Homo sapiens: one gene and its partners. The protein of the gene in region 4 purifies or fractionates together with the protein of the main gene of each other region. This does not show direct contact. Each region holds a gene or a part of one and is shown on either strand. Other genes may lie near its edges.

Evidence for each region.
Region 1: the proteins of NAT1 (region 4) and FTO purify together in Homo sapiens (affinity purification with mass spectrometry; one large-scale study listed by BioGRID and IntAct). This does not show direct contact.
Region 2: the proteins of NAT1 (region 4) and ICAM1 purify together in Homo sapiens (affinity purification with mass spectrometry; 3 studies listed by BioGRID and IntAct, with this or other methods). This does not show direct contact.
Region 3: the proteins of NAT1 (region 4) and MRRF purify together in Homo sapiens (affinity purification with mass spectrometry; one large-scale study listed by BioGRID and IntAct). This does not show direct contact.

The regions. Positions count from the first base shown.
Region 1 is NC_000016.10:53,825,902-53,830,790, reverse strand, and holds part of FTO (alpha-ketoglutarate-dependent dioxygenase FTO), read right to left. Parts: coding exon 4,300-4,889; coding exon of another isoform or gene 4,270-4,299; intron 1-4,269.
Region 2 is NC_000019.10:10,277,366-10,282,254, reverse strand, and holds part of ICAM1 (intercellular adhesion molecule 1 precursor), read right to left. Parts: intron 1-4,889. UniProt on the Homo sapiens protein: ICAM proteins are ligands for the leukocyte adhesion protein LFA-1 (integrin alpha-L/beta-2).
Region 3 is NC_000009.12:122,313,128-122,318,016, reverse strand, and holds part of MRRF (ribosome-recycling factor, mitochondrial isoform 1 precursor), read right to left. Parts: intron 4,791-4,889; coding exon 4,631-4,790; intron 1-4,630. UniProt on the Homo sapiens protein: Responsible for the disassembly of ribosomes from messenger RNA at the termination of mitochondrial protein biosynthesis. Acts in collaboration with GFM2. Promotes mitochondrial ribosome recycling by dissolution of intersubunit contacts.
Region 4 is NC_000008.11:18,215,799-18,221,358, reverse strand, and holds part of NAT1 (arylamine N-acetyltransferase 1), read right to left. Parts: intron 4,483-5,560; exon of another isoform or gene 4,466-4,482; coding exon of another isoform or gene 4,365-4,465; intron 4,318-4,364; exon of another isoform or gene 3,666-4,317; intron 1,949-3,665; coding exon of another isoform or gene 1,870-1,948; intron 1,856-1,869; exon of another isoform or gene 1,336-1,855; intron 1-1,335. UniProt on the Homo sapiens protein: Participates in the detoxification of a plethora of hydrazine and arylamine drugs. Catalyzes the N- or O-acetylation of various arylamine and heterocyclic amine substrates and is able to bioactivate several known carcinogens.

The DNA.
Region 1 (4,889 bases), on a different chromosome or scaffold from region 4:
CCGAGTAGCTGGGACTACAGGTGCGCACCACCATGCCCAGCTTATTTTTCTATTTCTAAGAGACAAGGTTTCACCATGTTGGCCAGGCTGGTCTTGAACTCCTGACCTTGTGATCCACCTGCCTTGGTCTCCCAAAGTGCTGGGATTACAGTTGTGAGCCTCCGCGCCCAGCTGCCTTCCTGGCTCCTTGTGGGAGGTCTGGAAAATAATGTCAAGAATATGCAATACTTGGCACTAGTTTAAAATCTTAAGAATTGCTTTTCTTTCTAGAAAGACAATTTCACAGAAAATGTTTCCTTCCAGACAAAGAAACAAAAATGGTAGCCAATAGTTACTGTTGATCTAAGTGATGTTTCTGAAGGTGTTCCAGTCAAAGAACAAGGTGCTGGACCATATTAAACATTGGGTTTTTAATGCCTTCCCCGCTAAAGTTCGTTTTTTATAGCTAGGAGTAACAAGCAATTGCCAGCAAAGCTGGAATAGGAAAATCAAATATTCTGCCTATTTACATATGGTTCCCCGAAGCCATTCCTGATTAAAAATTGTACCATTTCAATCTTCCTACTGGAGATATCTATTAACTAGAACGGCATGTGAAAGCCAATGAATTTAGTATATAATTACACGTATCCTATACAAATTACTTCTCAATGACCTCTACTCATGAAAATAAACCAAAGAGGGATGACTGGCTCATTATAAATCTACAAGAAGATTTCCCTGGGAAAAGGTATTGAGAGCAGAGTCTTGAAAGATCTTAAGCTTCAACTGAATTTAATTTCAGCAGGAAGCAATCACTTCTGTATCTGAATTCCCAGTGCATTTTACGTGAACCTCTCCAGTGGCAAGGAACACTTTCCAACTTAAATCCCTGCTCTTATCACTAAGTAGCAATGTGACCTTGGCCAAGCCACTTCCCTTCTCGGTGTTTTCATTTGTAAAATGAAAGGCTAGAATCAAGTGATTTCAAAAGTCTCTTTCAAACCCAATGTTTCATCATTTCATAATTATAATCACGAGAGCCCACCTATTACCTCCCTATTACCTCAAAGTGAGAAAGCCATTGATTTATCTTTGGAGTTCCCATACTGTCTAGAACAGCTCATTGACAAACAAGTTCAAGGACACAGAAAAAAATACAATTCTCTGAAGTGTCCACTCTCTATGACCTCCTTAAGCCCTTCTCAACCTCAACCAAAATTTTAAACCAAATGATTCTCTTCAAGTCCACCTTTGCCATAGTTCTGGCATTCTGCCAAGGATTATAAGACCAGAAAACTAAACAGATATCACTTGTCACTTAGAAGACATGCGCCCACCATAGAGTTTCAAGGCACATGCTTTGTACACCATCTGACCCAGAGCCACATGCTTTGTATGCCGTCTGACACACAGCCAGACACCTACAGAAAGGTTCTGTTTCATCGAATAAGATAATCTGATGCATTCCAATCATCTGAGAGTATGTGCTGGAAAGCTACAGCAGATGTGGGTGAGAAGTAAAGCTGGAGAAAGGAAGACACCAGGACCTGAAAGAAAAAGCAAGTGGAATGTCCCCTTAACCTTTCCAGAAGGTGGACATTTTAAAAATCCAAGTCCCTGGCCAGGCGCAGTGGCTCACACCTGTAATCTCAGCACTTTGGGAGACCAAGGCATGCAGATCACGAGGTCAGGAGTTTGAGACCAGCCTGGCTAGCATGGTGAAACCCCGTCTCTACTAAAATTATAAAAAATTAGCTGGGAGTAGTGGTGCATGCCTGTAATCCCAGCTACTCGGGAAGCTGAGGCAGGAGAATCACTTGAACCCAGGAGGCGGAGGTTGCAGTGAGCCGAGATCGTGCCACTGCACTCCGGCCTGGGAGATAGAGCAACACTCTGTCTCAAAAAATTAAAAAAGTAAAATAATAAAATAAAATCCCTGAGACGGCTACACTGCTGGGATAAGAAATACCTGCTCATAATGCACATAGCCTTAGGTGTTAAGATTCTGAAGCCTGGATATTTGTCCTCAAATCCTAACTCTGCTAATTACTTGCTGCATCACCATGAACAAGTTAATCAACCTTCTGTGACTCAGTTTCCTCATCTGTAAAATGAGGATAGCAATAGTACTTCATTACTATTTTGTTCTTTGAATTGTTGGGAAGACAAAATGAGTTAATGCATGTAAAATGCTTATAACAGCATGTAGCACGTAGTAGGTGCTCAATAAATGAGCATTCCCAGTATTGCTATTATTATTAGATGGAGTTCTGAGAATTTCTGCAGTTAAGAGAACAAAGGAGGCCGGGCATGGTGGCTCAAGCCTGTAATCCCAGCACTTTGGGAGGCCGAGGTGGGCGGATCATGAGATCAGAAGATTGAGACCACGGTGAAACCCCGTCTCTACTAAAAATACAAAAAATTAGCCGGGCGTGGTGGCGGGCGCCTGTAGCCCCAGCTACTTGGGAGGCTGAGGCAGAAGAATGGCGTGAACCTGGGAGGCGGAGCTTGCAGTGAGTGGAGATCGCACCACTGCACTCCAGCCTGGGCGACAGAGCGAGACCCCGTCTCAAAAGAAAAAAAGAAAAAAAAGAGAACAAAGGAGTTTGCACACCGCTCTTACAGATTCAAATTCTACAGTTCCCTCTTTAAGTACCAACATTTCTATATTTATATGTAATTTATATTTGTATACTTTGTCAGTCTTAATTACTCCTGAGCATAGAAACTATTCATTAGACATTTAAATTCCTTTCTGAAAGATATTCTAGGTTTCAAAAACTACTTGATCACCCACGGGAAGGGAGTACAATAGGACTATTAAACTGGAGGGCTCAGAGTAATTGGGAGCACAAAGACATCTTTGTAGAGCTTTGTACTATCACATACCACTGCTTCAGGTTTGGAGAGTTGTCTCCTTAAGAAAGAAACTAACTCCATTGTTCGTTCACATCAGAGTTCTTGGATGTGATAGTTCTTAAATCCCTGGCAAGTCCTTATTAAAGATCAGAGGATCTCCGTTCTTTCCATTAGGACAGCGTTAAATCCCTTCAAGCGATTTTCTTAGGTCAGCATCATTATTTGAGATGCCAGAGAAAGTGGTGAAATTTCCAAATGCTAAACTAGTTCCTTGTTTCAGACTGAAGACATAAGATAAAGTTAGAAAAAATATTAGTAGTTCTGAGGAAATTTTTGAGACTGGGAAATTGTAAGAAATTTAAAGAGTACTTTAAAGATCTTTTTTTTCTTAAATCTCTTTTCCAAAACAGTAATTTTAGTAAACAAATAACAACAACAAACAAAAATCCAATCAAATAACTAGAGTTGTCAGAAAATAATGACCCTGGAAAGTTCCAGTCATTCCCTGATGGGATATCCAGAATTCTGGTTTTCCAAACATCTTTCAGTAAATCAGACAGGAGAGCTAATACTATGTCTTGTATCCCTTTGCCAAATAATCAGACACAAAAGAAAGTCAACAGAGGTCATGCTCTCCTCCATCTGTTCAACTACCATTTTTGTAATTCTATTCTAAGGAAAAATGAGGGCCATAAACACACAGAAACAATAATAGAAGAAGAGAAATGTGGGTGGGCTACTAAGAGGTAGCCTACGATCTGTTTCAAGGGGATTATACATCAGAAAATGCAAGAACAAGTCTACCACAGCCACCCAACAAGGTCTAAAACTGCAGAATTGGGTAAAGAGCTAGGGAGTTTCCTGAAAATAGAGGACTGTCTGCTTACAAAACCTACCTCAACTGCTTCTGGCAAGGAAGGACAGTAGTTACAAACTATAGGAAGCCAAGAACAAGTCCATATTTGACAAATCACACCCATCAAGATAGTGATGTCAACCATAATAAAATATTTTGGCAGGTCTGGAAATGTGCACCTGTGGGAACCTGGAAAGATTTGACAGATTTTTGTTTTCCCAGCTCTTTATCAGCAAGTTAATTATAGCAACTGTACAATCTCCTCTGAGCTGTAGAGAAGACAGTCGGCTGTATGAAACCAAGAGGCTGCTCTCCTGGGCACAAGAGAGACAAATGACAGCAGTGCTTACGTGCGAAAATATTCTGAGTACAGTATAACAATGAGCCAGCTAGCATGGCCAGATGAGAAAGAGGCATATTCTGCAGACATACAGGTGTGACAAGACTAAAAAGGACACATGATACACACACACGCATGTGCATGTACACACGCAAGCACACATGCAAACATGTTCATGTATATGCGTGTGTATCTCCAGAGCCTAAACAACTCGGGTCATATTATTACATACAGGGCTGCTTTTTCCAAGAGCAGACTGTACCTTCACAGCTATAACTGTACACTGCCACCGCTGACCTGTCCACCAGATTTTCATCATGATGCCAGCTCACTGCCATTTTCCCCATGCCAAAATAAGGTTCCTCTTTCAGGTATGGCATTTTCTGAGGATCCATGAAATTCAGCAAAGTTACGTTGTATGCTGCTCTGCTCTTAATGTCCACTTCATCTTGTCCGTTGTAGGATGAACCCATCCCAACCCTGGGGAAATCTGCAGACATACACAATGGCACAGCATCCTCATTAGCCTTCTCTTTGGCAGCAAGTTCTTCCAAAGCCTGGATGGTTTCTATCTGCAGGTAGTCATTGAGCTTGAGGAAGGTCTCACAAGCAGCGGCTATTTCAGCCTCGGTGTGTTTTATATTAGACCCTTTCACTGGCCAGGGGACCGTAAAGAGCCTGGTGTTCAGGTACTTGTAGGTGCAGCCTGGATTACCAATGAGGATGCGAGATACCGGAGTGAGCAGATCTTTGCCTTGGATCCTAACCAGGTCCCGAAATAAGCAGCCATGCTTGTGCAGTGTGAGAAAGGCTTCTTGAACCTCTTTATGGAGCTCCTCAGATACACTGCTG
Region 2 (4,889 bases), on a different chromosome or scaffold from region 4:
ATGAATGAATGAATGAATGGTTAACTGGGTGTGGTGGTGCACACCTGTAGTCCCTGCTACTTGGGAGGCTGAGGCAGGAGGATCACTTGAGCCCAGGAGTTTAAGGCTATAGTGAACTGTGATCATGCCACTGTACTTTAGCCTGGGAAAGAAAGACCCTGTTTCTATTAAAAAAAAAAAAAAGTCAGTAATGACAGAGTCTAATAACAAAAAGGCTGCGTGTGGTGGCTCACGCCTGTAATCCCAACACTTTGGGGGGCCGAGGCAGGCGGATCACCTGAGGTCAGGAGTTCAAGACCAGCCTGGCCAATATAGTGAAACCCCGTCTCTACCTAAAAATACAAAAATTAGCCAGGCGTGGTGTTGTGTGCCTGTAGTCCCAGCTACTTGAGAGGCTGAGGTTTACTTGTGAGGAAAGGATTACTTCAGCCCAGGAGGCAGAGATTGCAGTGAACTGAGATCGCGCCACTGTACTCTAGACTGAGTGACAGAGTGAGAGTCTCTCTCAGAGGAAAAAAAAAAAAAAAAAAAAAGCATCAGGACCGGGGGGGTCCTGCATTTGATACCCAGCCTTGCTTCTTTGCTGTGGGTAAGTGACTTTGTCTCTCTGAACCTCAGTTTCCTGAACTGTAAAATAGGGCTATTAAAGGTAGGAGAATTCACTTAAGAGGTAGACAGAGTCGCTGTACATAAGCAGGAGGTTTCTTTTTTAGAGTGATTGAAATATTTTAAAATTAGATTGTAGTCATGGTTGTTTGTACAGAAGTCATTGAATTATGTGCTTAAAAGGGATGAATCTTATGGTATTCTAAATCGTATCTCAAGAAAGCAAGGCTGGGGCATGGTGGCTCACATCTGTAATCCCAGTACTTTGGGATGCCAAGGCGGGGTCATTTGAGGCCAGGAGTTCAAGGCTAGCTTGGGCAACATTGCAAGACCTCATTTCTCCAAAAAAAAAAAAAAAAATTAAAAACAAGCTGGGCTTCGGCATGGCGTGGTGGCTTATGCCTGTAATCCCAGCACTTTGGGAGGCCAGAACAGATGGATCACCGGAAGTCAGGAGTTCAAGACCAGCCTGGCCAGGCCAGACATGGTGGCTCACGCCTGTAATCCCAGCACTTTGGGAGGCCAAGGCGGGCGGATCACGAGGTCAGGAGATCAAGACCATCCTGGCTAACACGGTGAAACCCCGTCTCTACTAAAAATACAAAAAATTAGCCAGGCGTGGTGGTGGGCGCCTGTAGTCCCAGCTACTCAGGAGGCTAAGGCAGGAGGATGGAGTGAACCCGGGAGGCGGAGCTTGCAGTGAGCCCAGATCGAACCACTGCACTCCTGCCTGGGCGACAGAGTGAGACTCTGTCTCAAAAAAAAAAAAAAAAAAAAAAAGGCCGGGCACGGTGGCTCATGCCTGTAATCTCAGCACTTTGGGAGGCCGAGGCAGGTGGATCATCTGAGGTTGGGAGTTCGAGACCAGCCTGACCAACATGGAGAAACCCTGTCTTTACTAAAAATACAAAATTAGCCTTGTGTGGTGTCGCATGCCTGTAATCCCAGCTACTCAGGTGGCTGAGGCAAGAGAATAGCTTGATCCTGGGGGTCGGAGGTTGTGGTGAGCTAAGATCCTGCCATTGCACTTCAGCCTGGGCAATAAGAGCGAAACTCCGGTCTCAAACAAACAAACAAAAAACACCAAAGAAAAAAAAAAAACCAGCTGGGCTTCCTGCTGGCTCACACCTGTAGTCCCTGCTACTCAGGAGGCTAAGGGTGGGAGGAGGATTTCTTGAGCCTGGGAGTTTGAGGCTGCAGTCAGCTACGATTGTACCACTGCACTCCAGCCTGGGTGACAAAGTGAGACCCTGAGACCCTGTCTCTAAAAATAAAACAGAAAGCTGTTAAGCTGTTAAAAACAAAAACAAAAAAATATATATATATATAGTCAAGAAAACTCTGACCTCCAGCTCTTCTCTCTTACCACCTCCTATAGACTCTTGCAGAACTTGAGGTACCCTCAAACCTCAGCCCCTAGAGGAAACCCAGCTCAGCTGCCTGGTGCAGCGGGGAGGAAGTCTGTCCTGCTCTCACCTCTTCTTGACCCTGACCTGCAGTCCTTTACCAAATCCTGGTCACTGAAGTATTCAAATACTTGTCTGTCCTTCCCTTCTTGAATACGGTCACTGCCCACAACATGGGCCGCGTGGACAAGGACCATAGCCAACTGCTCATTGGCTTCCAGTAAATCCAGCCTTCAGCTATCTAATCCCTGGCCTGCTCAGAAACCCTCCATGACTCCCTATCACCCCAAGAAGGAAAGTCCCAGCTCCTCCACCTGGCATTCAAGGCTCTGCCAACCTCACCCTTCCTCCCATCAATCAATTTTTTTTTTTTTTTTAGGGGCAGTGTCTCTCTCTGTCACCTGGGCTGGAATGCAGTGGTGCAATCATAGCTGACTGTAACCTCAAATTCCTGGGCTTGACCAGGCTCAGTGGCTCACACCTATAATCCCAGCACTTTGGGAAACTGAGGCAGGAGGATCTCTTGCGGTCAGGCGTTCAAGACCAGCCTGGCTAACATGGTAAACCCTATCTCTACTAAAAATACAAAAAAATTAGCTGGGCATGATGGTGGGCACCTTAATCCCAGCAACTCGGGAGGCTCAGGCAGCAGAATCGGTTGAACCCAGGAGGTGGAGGAGGCTGCAGTGAGCCAAGATGGCACCACTGCACTCCAGCCTGGGCCACAGAGTGAGACTCCATCTCAAAAAAACAAAAACAAAAACAAAAAAATTCCTGGGTTCAAGTGATCCTCCCACTTGAGCCTCCAGAGTAGTTGAGAATACAAGCATATGCCACTGTACCCTAATTTTTTTATTTTTTCTTAGAGACAGGGTCTCGCTATGTTGCCCAGGCTGGTCTCGAACTCCTGGGCTCAAACAATCCTCTTGCTTTGGCCTCCCAAAGCACTGGGATTACAGGTGTGAGCCACTGCACCTGGCCTACACCAACCTACCTCCTCCTCCTCCTGCCTCCATCAAGATTTCTCCCTGCTCCCAACTTTTGCCCAGGCTGTTCCTCCTGCCCAGAATGCCTGTCCTTATGAACTCCTACACATCCTTCAAAGCCCAGCTAGTGGTCGCCTCCTCTAGGAATTACACCTCTAACCTTTTTGGAGAAGATTGAGCCATCCAGGGAGGCTTCTTTATGTTTACACCAGGGGTGGGGCAAGACCAAGCTAGAGTCTCTCTCAGGTACCACCCTCCCACATAACTTTTACTCCTTTGCTACCTGTGCCAGCCATCTGCTCCATTTCACAGAGGTAAAAACTAAGGCAAAGTGGGGCACCCACAGTCATAGAGGGAGAAATGTGGCAGAGCCAGGTCTCAAACCTGGAGTTCTATGCTCTCAGCTATCAGGCAGAGCCGCGCGTGGTGGCTCAAGCCTGTAATCCCAGCACTTCGGGAGGCTGAGGCGGGTGGATCACCAGAGGTCTAGAGTTCGAGACCAGCCTGGCCAACTTGGCGAAACCCTGTCTCTACTAAAAATACAAAAATTAGCCAGGCGTGGTGCCAGGTGCCTGTAATCCCAGCTACTGGAGAGGATGAGGCAGGAGAACTGCTTGAACCCGGGAGATGGAGGTTGCAGTGATCCAGCCTGGGCGACAGAGCAAGACTGTGTGTCAAAAAAAAGAAAAAAAAAAAAAAAAAAAAAAAGACCTATCAGGCAGAGATGCAGAAAAGACCTTCAAAGAGGTTTCCCTGGGGTTTCCAGAAGCTGCTGGGAATGTTCGGGGACTTCCCTCACCTGGGAAGGTCAGCATCTGCTCACCCACCCTCCAAATCAGAAGCAAAGCTGATCATTTGATCATTTACCCAGAGGCTTCCTTGCCCTGACACAATGATAGGAGAACATCCTTTGTCACTCACCGTGTCATTTTCCCCATCAGAGGAGGTCTCACCTGATTGCAAAGTAAATGCAGAAGTCATGTCCCAAGCTATTAAAGGCCTTGCTGGGACTGGAACCCAAGGCTAATCCCAAAGCTACTTGGCCAGTTTTTATTTTTTAGAGACAGGGTCTTTCTCTGTCACCCAGGCTGGAGTGCAGTGGTGTCATCACGGCTCACTACAGCCTGGACCTCCCAGGCTCAGGTGATCCTCCCACCTCAGCCTCCTGAGTAGCTGGGACTACTAGTATGCCAGCACGCTTGGTTAGGTTTTTTATTTTTTGTAGATATGGGGTCTTGCTATGTTGCCCAGGCTGGTGTCCAACTCCTGGCCTCCAAGCGATCCTTCTACTTCGGCCTTCTAAATCACTGGGATTATAGGCATGAGCCACGTGCCTAGCCTGCCCAGTGCTCTTCTGTTTTTTCTTCTTTGATTTTGTTTTGTTTTCATTTGAATTCCTTATTTTGGCCTTGATAACTCTTTCCCACCATTCGAAGTCCCCAAAGTAGGAAGGACGCAAAGAGAAATTCTCGGCTGGGGGCAGTGGCTCACGCCTGTAATCCCAGCACTTTGGGAGGCCGAGGCGGGCAGATCACAAGGTCAGGAGATCAAGACCAGCCTGGCCAACATGATGAAATCCCGTCTCTACTAAAAATACAAAAATTAGCCGGGCGTGGTGCTGGGCGCCTGTAATTCCAGCTACTTGGGAGGCTGAGGCAGGAGAATTGCTTGAACCCGGGAGGGAGAGGTTGCAGTGAGCTGAGATTACACCATTGCACTCCAGGCTGGGGACACAGCAAAACTCCATCTCAAAAAGACAACAACAAAAAAAGAATTCTCAGCCAGGCAAAGTGGCTCACGTTGTAATCCCAGCACTTTGGGAGGCCGAGGCGGGCGGATCACCTGAGGTCAGAGTTCAAGACCAGCCTGACCAACATGGAGAAACCCTGTC
Region 3 (4,889 bases), on a different chromosome or scaffold from region 4:
TACAGATGCCCACCACCATGCCCGGCTAATTTTTTATGTTTTTAGTAAAGACAGGGTTTCACCGTGTTAGCCAGGACGGTCTCGATCTCCTGACTTTGTGAACTACCTGCCTGGACCTCCCAAAGTGCTGGGATTATAAGCGTGAGCCACTGCGCCCAGCCTATCATTTCATTCTTATACACCAAAAATTGAAGAAGCATTTTTATAATAAAGCTTTAAAAAATCTGACCTCAAAAGATTTTTGAAAATTAAAAAAGATAATCTCACTCAAAATAAAATCCAAATTGTTTATAATCCCATCATCTGAAATGACCACCTTTAATATTTTGACATGTATAAGCTGCCAACCCCATGTGCATGTGACTTTTCTTTATAAAACTAAAATCAAACTGCTGTATAATCTACCTTTTAAAAGCAAATTCCAAAAAAATTTACCATGTCTATAAAATATTTTTATAACTTTCTATGTAGATTCTAATGAATGTAAAACAATTTACTTCCCACAGTCAGAAATTTATAGACAGTTTCCAGTTTTCTACTATTATATATATCAATGAACATTCCTATAAATAAGGCTCTTGATTATTTATTTTGGGCAAATTCCTAAGTCACTAAATCAGAAATGTATGGATTTTAGTATATATTATCCTTTAGAAAGGTCGTATGGATTTATACAAAGAATAACAATCTTTTCTGTAGAGTGTGAAAGTAAAAGCAACAGTTCCCAGATAAGCAACATTTTCAGCTCAGATAAAAAATTCTAGGTTCAAGTGTTAGGGGTTATAAAAGGCAAATTAAATACATATATATTCTAAAAACACAGTAGTATGTACCAAGAATCTTACAAAAAATATGCAATCCCTCTGTACAGTAATTCCACACTTGGGACGTTCCAGTCTATTCTAAGGAAATCATCTCAACAAAGATTTATATATATATATATATATATTCACTGCAACCTTATAACAAAGAAGTTTCAACAAACTAAAATGTCCAAAAAGAGGGCTTATGAAAGTGAACAGCACACCACCAACTATTTAGCAGCCATCAGAAAGAGTTTTACAAAGAGTTTTTCAAGACATGAAAAATGCTAATACCTTTGAGGTCAAACAGAAAATAAAAAGCTGAATACAAAATTGTATATATACTATATGTTCTCAATCATGTTTAAAACTATGTAGTTTTTTTTTTTTTTAGAAAAAAGGAAAAAAGAAATATTCCAAAATGTTAAGAGCGGTTGCCTCTCCAATGTGGGAGGGGAGGATGAACTTTCTCCAATGAACATATATTACTTTGATAATAAGGAACAAAAGTAAACAAAATTTTAAAACTGTCTGATGAAGCGACAATCAGCCATAACCTTGTTTTATATCTTTAAAACATGCACGCACACGTACACACACACACACACCAAAAATTCCAGTCTGGGGCCTTCTGACAGTAGAAAGAACACCATGAAGTATATATAAGGCTCTCTACTGTTCCAAACTTTTAACTCTATGACAGTAAATTAAGTTATTAACAATCCTGGTTAAGAATAAACATTTAGCTGGGCACTCATGCCTGTAATCCCAGCACTTTGGGGGGCTGAGGTGGGCGGATCATCTGAGGTCAGGAGTTCAAGACCAGCCTGGCAAACATGGTGAAACCTCATCTCTACTAAAAATAAAAAAATTAGCAGGGCATGGTGGCACGTGCCTGTAATCCCAGCTACTCGGGAGTCTGAGGCAGGAGAATCGCTTGAACCCAGGAGGTAGAGGTTGCAGTGAGCCAAGATTGCACCACTGCACTCCAGCCTGGGTGACAAAAATAAAAAATAAATAAAAATAAACATTTAAATAATAATATGTTTAGAAAGATATCTGTGATATATCGTATCATATAAATTGTATGATACTTTTTCTTGTTTCGAGAGATAACTTGAAGTTCTACACTAAAATGTTAACAACAGTCATCTGAGTGATGAGATTTCAATTACTTTCTTCCTTGTTTTAACAGCAAAACGAATACAGCTATTTTCACTTAAAAAAATCACAGTAAGAAGCACTAAAGAAAAAAAATTTAATCTGAAGAGGATGGCGAAAAGCCAGTGCTAATGAGTGAAGGCTTCCAGCAAGGTCTTTGTCAAGAGGGTTTTATCAAGAATGCTTGCTATCTGATCATTCTTCCTCTTTCAGGAGTTGTGGGCTCTGGTCCCTGAGGCAGATGTCCTGGCTTGCTGAGTGACTAGTGCCTGGCAGGCCCTGAAGGTCCATAGGCTTACCACCAAGAAGCAATGACAAGGGAAAGCAGTGAAGAAATCCCCTAGGAGAAAGACAAGGAGCCGGCCCAGCTGGAGCCAGGGCCCAGACTATTAATGAGGCCTGGTCAGTGCACAGGAAAGGCCCGCCTAATCTCTGAACCTCTTCTTTTAGCTGATACAGGGAAGGAGGAGGGCAGAGAGATGGCAAGAGGGGAGTTTTGAGGGTTTGGGTGTTAGGTACACTAATGGTGCTTTCTAGCATACCAAGGAAACCATTCAAGGCAGAAATTACCAATCCCTTTTTACAGAAAACAGACTCCAAAGAGTCAAGCAACTTCCCCAAGGTCATAGGACATCAAGTGCAGAACAATCTTTTTCTAACTCTAGTGTCATTACACAGGTACATTACCAGGCTTCTAGGTCATTATCTTCTATGTGTGCTTTTACACAATTACCTGAGAGCTTTTTAAAACTATACATTCCAGCTGGACGCATCTGTTATCCCAGCTACAGGAGGACTGCTTGAGCCCAGGAGCCCAAGACCAGCCTGGGCAACATAGTGAGACCCCATCTCAAGAAAAATGAATTAATAAAAGTAAGTAAAATAAAAATATACATTCCTAGGCAGAGCTACTGTATCAGAAAATGCAGGAGTAGGGCCCAGGAAGCCACCTAAAATTCCCCCCCCCAGGTGACTGTTGTGGCTGTCCTACTAGTAAAATGCTAGTAAAACTAGCATTTTAACTGCTGGTGGAGGAGAAGGGGAGCAGCTAGTCAACTTATGGACTTCTCCAGGGGTCCCTTGCTTCTCGCTTCTCTCTTCACTCCCTATCCAGCCCACATGCCTGTTCAATCTCCCTAAAACAATGCTTTATTGTGGATGAGGAGGCTTTAAGGCCTATCAAACCCTTTATATTACATTGAACATTACTAATTCTATCTCCACATCTTTCCACAGGTGCCACTCAGGTTCAGGCCACCATCACTTCCTGGCTGGATTTCTGCAGCAGCATCCCTATCGCCCTGCCTCCAGTCTTGCCCCCTACAATCTGTTTTCTACCTGGCCACCATAGTCATCTTTCATAAACATAGATGTGCTCTCTCCATCATCTAAAAAAAATCTTTTAAGTGTGTCACTGTATGAGAATCACCTGAGAAGGATTTAAAATACAGATTCCTGGCTCTGTCCCAGATTCATTGACTCAATCTCTGGAAATGGGGCCCCAGATACCTGGATTTTTATAAGCTACCCAAGTGATTAAGGTACTTTGGTAGAGAGATGCTGTTCAGCAAATATTCACTTCTTTCCCCAGACCTCCATAAATATATATATTTCCTTGTACCAAACATATTGAGCTTGGCCCATGTGACTTGCTTTGGCCAATCAAATGTGACAAGAGCAGGTGTTTAAAATGTACTTGAGTGGTTGGGCTTATGATCTTGGCATCTGCTGTTACCATGAAAAGAGGCCCTAGGAAACCTGTTGGCTTTGGAAGATTGAGAGATATAAAGCAGATTTGAACCCAATCCAAGATCTGGAGCCAAGCCCACTGAGCCCAGCCTAGAATAGCTACACCCCAGCTGGCCCATGGAAATGAGAACAAGAAATAATGCTTTGATATTGTCGATCACTGAGTTTTGGGGTAGTTATGTACCATTATTGTGGCCATACATGACTAATATAGATGCACAGCCAATGTGGGACAGTCTGTACATGTTAACGTTCAAACTCCTAAACCTGGTGTACGAGACCTTCCTTCTATTATCTAGCCACTCTGTTTTCTTTATTCATTCCCTAGTCTTATCCTACGTTCAAACCCCAATGATCTTAACTGAATATTGTTTTTATATCACCTTACCTTTGTACATATGGTTACACTTTTCCCCCTTGTCTCTCACTATTTTACTCCAGCAGCTTAAGACTTATTCAAGTGCCACTACTCAGCACACTGAGAACACTAAGTGCTCAATTCTCAGCAACCGGAAAACCAGACAGGAGAGCATTAGCGTAGAGGCTCTGAAATCCGTCTGCCTAAGTATGGATCCGATTTCTACCAATTTCCAGCAGTGTGATTTCGGGCAAGTTATTTAACTTGCCTGAATCTCAGTTTCCTTACTACCTACCTCATAGTTTTGTAGTGATGAGGGTAAATGAAGTAATATAAAGTGTTCAGCACAAAACCTGGTACACAATACAAGTGTCTTATCCTCCTCTATGGATCCCTCTGAATCTGGCATTAGGCTAGGCCCAGAACAGAGACTCAGACAATGGTGATAATGTGAATGAAAGATCAGAGGTATTCTGTTTTAACTGTCCTCACCTCAAACATGAACAAATGATTCCTTATGCTGAATACACAGACACTACTACATTGCTGGCAATAGTACCTGTTTCTCTATTAGCCTAATGGTGTCCTCTGAGACTGTATCCTTGGATTTCTTCAGCTTGTTCATTGAGTTGGTGCGAACCTTCCGTAAAGAGTCTTTGGCCTTGTTGGTGTTCTGTTTGGCCAGTTTCACCAGCATTTCTCTGTGCTCTCTGGTTACTCTGATAAAAGACAAAAGACATTCAACAAAATCATTCTATACATTAACTGCTGGCCAAGAATTTAACATCACTCTGTCAACCAGTTCAGCAGTTTGTAAC
Region 4 (5,560 bases):
GGGAGAGCTCCAATTTTAAATTAGTTGGTTTAAAAAAAAAAAAAAACACACCAAAAAAAAAACACTCGCTAAGATTTGAAGGATGCCAGAGAATAAGGCCTAAGGATATGCGTGAGGAGGATTGTTCCAAGTAGGAAAACAGAAAATAACAAGGCCTTAAGCTGGAAACTGCCTTGAGCGTTCAAAAAACATTCAGGAAGCAAGGGTAATTGGAGCACATGAGTAAGAAGGAGAGTGGACTGAGATGAGATCTGACAGGCAACTGCAGCCTTGGAGCTAAGACTGGCATTTTGGTTTTTACTGTAAGTGAAATGAGAAATGTAAATGAGAGAGGCCTGAGAGAAGGGTTGTAATTGAGCAATGTTTGCCACAATCAAAGTGATGTTTCTGGATACTGTGTAGAGAACAGGCTGCCCATATTGCGCCTTATGGATAGTCACATGGACTAGGTGGGACCAATTTGAACACATATGCTCTAGGACCAGTGCTTGGCTCATGGATAACATATGATCTAAGTAGATCTGAGACTTTACTGAGGAACTTTTGCTGAAACCTAAGCGTGTACATTCTGCTACAAGGTAGAAGCTGGTGGGGTATTCATTCAAAGCTATTGGTGAGTAGAAGCTGGTGGGGTATTCATTCAAAGCTATTGGTGAGAACCTACTGAAGAACAACACTAACAAAGAGTTCACCAAGTTTACCAAGAGATGAAAAACAACAGAAGGTAGAATGAGGAAAGACCTGAATGAAGCCGAAAGCTATCTTTTAACTTTCAGGTAATGTGAACCAAAAAAAAATAAATGCCCCTTATTTTGTTAAATATTTTAGAAAAGGTTTTTTAAACCTGCCATCATAGAGCCTTAACCTTTTGAGACTATGATTGTAACAGTGCTGTACAGACCTCAGGTATAACTCTTTTGTATGTGGTATGGCCTGAGGATGACCTTGTACAAAGGGACCTGCCCCGAGATGAATGGTGATAAGTGGAGCATCTCTTATTTTCCCTTCTCATAACATTTCTTCTATATTCTCCTATTTTTCCTTTCTGACCCAGCTATCCTCCCCATATTGCCAGTTTCCAACTTTCTCTGTTCTTGGTGTCTACAACATCATTTCTCCAAATCTATTAGATTGCATTTCTTCTCATCCTAACTTCCACCAGCACCCTTTCGTAACATTTGGTCAAGCTCTAAAGTTCTACCACTCAGAGAGAGAACAAGATGTATTTAGTCAGACAATGCCAACCCCTCTCTGCCCCCTCACCTAGAATTTGTACTGAGTATGTAAAGAAGAGAGAGAAGCCGATCTAAAAGGACGAAGGCGGTTTATACATACCTGGATATTTGATTCTTGCTTAGAATATCATTCCTTCTTTTAAGAAATTACTTTATATCTCTTTTATTTGGTTTAACTTGTTTACAAGCATTTGTTTTCCTCTTTTTCTTTTTTTGCCTCTTGTACCCTCTCTGTTCCCCTCCCTCCACCCTTCCCCTCCTTTTCTGTTTTTAAGATAAAGTGTTGATTTGGAATTCAGCAACTGCAAGTCCATTTGAAAGAAGTCAGTTTTGTTAGAGGCCTGGATAGAGCAATATGTTGTAACCAAATCACACGTGAACATTCTGTGGCTGAACATAAGAAATTGTGCATTATTAACGTTGTGCTTCAAGGTGGAATGCTGAAAGCACTTGGAAAGTAGTTGCCAGAGAAGAGCTCACTGAAAACATTATTAGCTTTATATATCCACTTGTAGAATCTCTGTGCAGTGATACATCCCTCCCTTTCATCTTGATCATAAATATAAGACTTAAAGGAGGCAGAGTGAACGTGCTTAGGAAGCCCACTGAGAGCTCTCAGAAAGGCGCTTAATACCTTTCTTAGTAAGTTGAAAGTAGGTTGATCTTCAGTTTTAATCCAGAAGACAGATTGCTGCTTCTTCCTGGCTTGAATTCTAGAAATAAGAGAAAAGACAGTCAGAAATATATAACATGACTTCCTTGAAAACAAAATAATAGTTTTGTAGACCGTAAATTATGAAGATTTCCTAAAAATCACAAAACAGAGGGAATGGACTGCACAGTAAAGTGAACATTTGAGTTGTATAAGTGTGTGGAAACTACAACTATGGAGATGGGTGCAACGCTGATGGGGTACAGCCTTCTGGCTTAAAAACCTGGAAGCTGTGGAAGCCACCAGCAGCGGGGCTTCCACAGCCTCCCGAGGCAACCCACCAGCTGATGAACTGTCATGAGATCAGCAAGGAAGGGTGAACCAAGTTCCATGCCCCCAGTCACTACCATGACATATACCAAACACATCAAAGACCAGGATGTAGTGCTAGCACCTGGTCTTCCTCTAGGTACAGCTATAATTCGGCATGTTGAGGCAGATAAACAAGGTAAGGCCCTTAATGTATGATGCTACTCAAAAGAAACAAGGACCATCTATATACAGAAGATCCGCTATCAGAGCATCTCTTGTCATAGCCACCTCCCCTCACCTCCACTAAAGAAAACTGAGGAGTCTGTGAAAGGAAATTAAATTGTGGGACCCCCGAAACTCATTTAGCCAAAGGGAAAAGTCAAGCTAGTAAGTGGGTCATGCAAACCTGCCTCCCCCTTTTTGGTTCCTGAATAAGATGGCTACAAGATGAAAAGCCACATGCCTCCCCCATATTTTGCCCACAAGTTAACTCCTAGTGAGCTGTTAAAACTTCACCATGACAAACAAATTGGGAGACATTAATATAATAATAAATCATGAGCTTACAACTGCCTTAATTGTCACAGACACAACTATATCTCTGATAAATCCCACCTGATTTAGAAAGCCCATTCCTCAGAGTAATGAAAGAATTAACATGGTGGCTGCGTCTAATAAAATGATCTCACGTTTTAAGTCCAAACCTATACCTTACAATTCCATCGGGTTCAGCTCCCCCGCCGCAAGCTCTAATTGTGTGTGACATGCTCCGTAGGTACCATATGTTTCTTATATGCCCTGGGGCCCCTGTCAATCTTTTGAGCTGTGATCTCCTCAACATCCATAATGCCCATATCTTTTTTTCATCAAAACGTGAACTTTTTTTAGAATTGGGGCCAGGAGACCAAGAATACCGAATTACAAAATGTCCTGACAACGTACCACAATTTAGTACTAGTAGTGTTGAAACATCGTCTTGTGGCCGGGAATATGAAATAGAGACACAGAAGGAAATAATAGAGGAGAAGAGAAAACACTGGAATAAAGAGCAGGAAACGGTAAAACTCCTTTTAGCTTCCCCAGTCTTCCTGTTAACACCAGAAGAGGAACGCTTGCTCAAGGATGTCTCCTCCCACTTACGGTCTCAGTCAATACAGATATAGGGAAAATATTCTCAGCCACTCCAATAAAGGTAGAGATAAATCCAAAGAAACCCCTGCCTAGCCTTAAACAATACACTCTATAGCAGGAAGCCGCAAATGGAATTGCCCCTATTATACAAGACTATCTAAAAAGGGGCTCATTATTCCCTGCACCAGCCCCTGCAACAGCCCTATGTTCCCTGTAAAGAAACAAAGCAGGAGAAAATGGAGATTTGTGCAGGACTTGAGGGCAATAAACAATATTGTAATACCCAGGCACCCAGTAGTCCCCAACCCACATGCCGTTTTATCAGCTATACTCACTACCAGCCAGTATTTCTCAGTTGTGAATCTCTGCGGTGCCTTTTTCAGTATTCCTGTAGATCCAGACAGCCATATTTGTTTGCTTTTACTTGGAAAGAATGGCAATATATGTGGGCTGTCATGCCCCAAGGGTATACAGAAAGTCCCACTTACTTTTCCCAAATACTAAAAGCTGATTTAGTGGATTTAATTTTTCCCCAGGGCTCAACACTCGTTCAGTATGTGGATGACCTTCTCCTTTGTCCAGGCACAGCATCTTCCTCCCAGGAAGATAGTCTACATTTACTCAGCCAGCAAGGGACGCAAAGCGTCTGAAGACAAACTTCAGCTGTGCTTACCGGAAGTTAAGTATTTGGGGCATATTATCTTGGTCAAAGGACTGAGTATTAACCCTGATAATGTGAGAGAAATTTTAGCTTTCCCAATGCCCATCACTAAGAAACAACTTAGAGGATTTCGGGGACTGGCAGGCTGTTGTAGAAACTGGATACCAAATTTCTCCTTTGTGGCTCACCCTCCATATGCATACCTAAAAAATGAACAACCTGATCTCATCATGGGGACTCCAGAGGGAAAACCAGTTATATAACAAATAAAGGAAATTCTCACTAATTCCCCAGACTCACAGCACCCAATCTACAAGTTGCCTTTCTCCCTTTTTGTATGCGAAACTGGAGGTACTGCATCCAGGGTACTGACCCAGAAACATGGTGATCATCAGAGACCGGTAGGCTATTATAGCCAACAGCTGGACCCTGTGGCTCGAGGGCTGCCTCCTTGTGTAAGAGTAATAACAGCATGGCCCTTCTGTACACGTCTGTTGAAGAAATAATTATGAGTTCTTATGAGTTCCCCCTTACCATTTTTGTGCCACATCCTATTGAGACCCTTCTAAATTCTCATCATACCCAGTATCTGTCTGTCAACTGCTTAGCCTCTTACGAAATTTTGCTTTTATCTTCTCCCAATATTACTATTTCCTGCTCTATCATCTTAATCCAGCCACTCTCTTGCCAGGCCCTTCCAACAAGACCCCTCATGACTGTGTTCTGATGACTGACCAACTTCTCACCCCCAGGACAGACCTATAAGCGATGCCACTGGATAATGCTGAGATAGAATGGTATACAGATGGGTCTTATTGAAGATGAGAAAATGGACATTTTAGAGCAGGATATGCTGTGGTTTCCTTACTAGAGGTAACTGAAGCCAGTCCTCTTCCCCATGCCAGATTGGTTCAAGCAGCCAAATTGATTGCCCTGACTCGAGCTTGTCAAGTGGCAAAAGACAAGGCTGCAAACATTTACACTGACAGCCGCTAAGCTTTTGGGGTTGCTCATAACTTTGGGATGCTATGGAAAGAGAGAGGATATTTAACCTACTCAGGGCAACCCATAGAAAATGGGCAGCAAGTATCAGCGCTGTTAGAAGCTACTCTAAAACCAAAACGTTTGGCAATTATAAAAATCCCAGGTCACTCAAAATTAGACACCACAGAAAGTCAGGGTAACCAACTGGCTGAAACCACAGCTAAAAGAGTAGCATCTGAGCCACCAGGTATGTTATGTAAAATGCAGAGTCCTTGCATTTTTCCTCTGCCCCTTTTGTTTATGTCATCTTATGCAAAAAAAAGCACATTCACTGAGCCAAAGGCCATGAATCACTATTTTCCCTACCCAGCTCTTACATGAAAACGGTGCTTCTCGATATCCCATCCTTTCCCCTTTAAATTTGCAGTCCTTAAAATCATCTTCAGAGAAAGGCATAGACCTGTCTCCCAGGCCCACATCCTTAACTTTGGCAAATAAATCTCCTAAAATGATTGAGACTCGTCTCGTCATTTTCCTCAATTGACAAGTCTACACCAACCCCAGCTGGACATCTCACCAGCCACA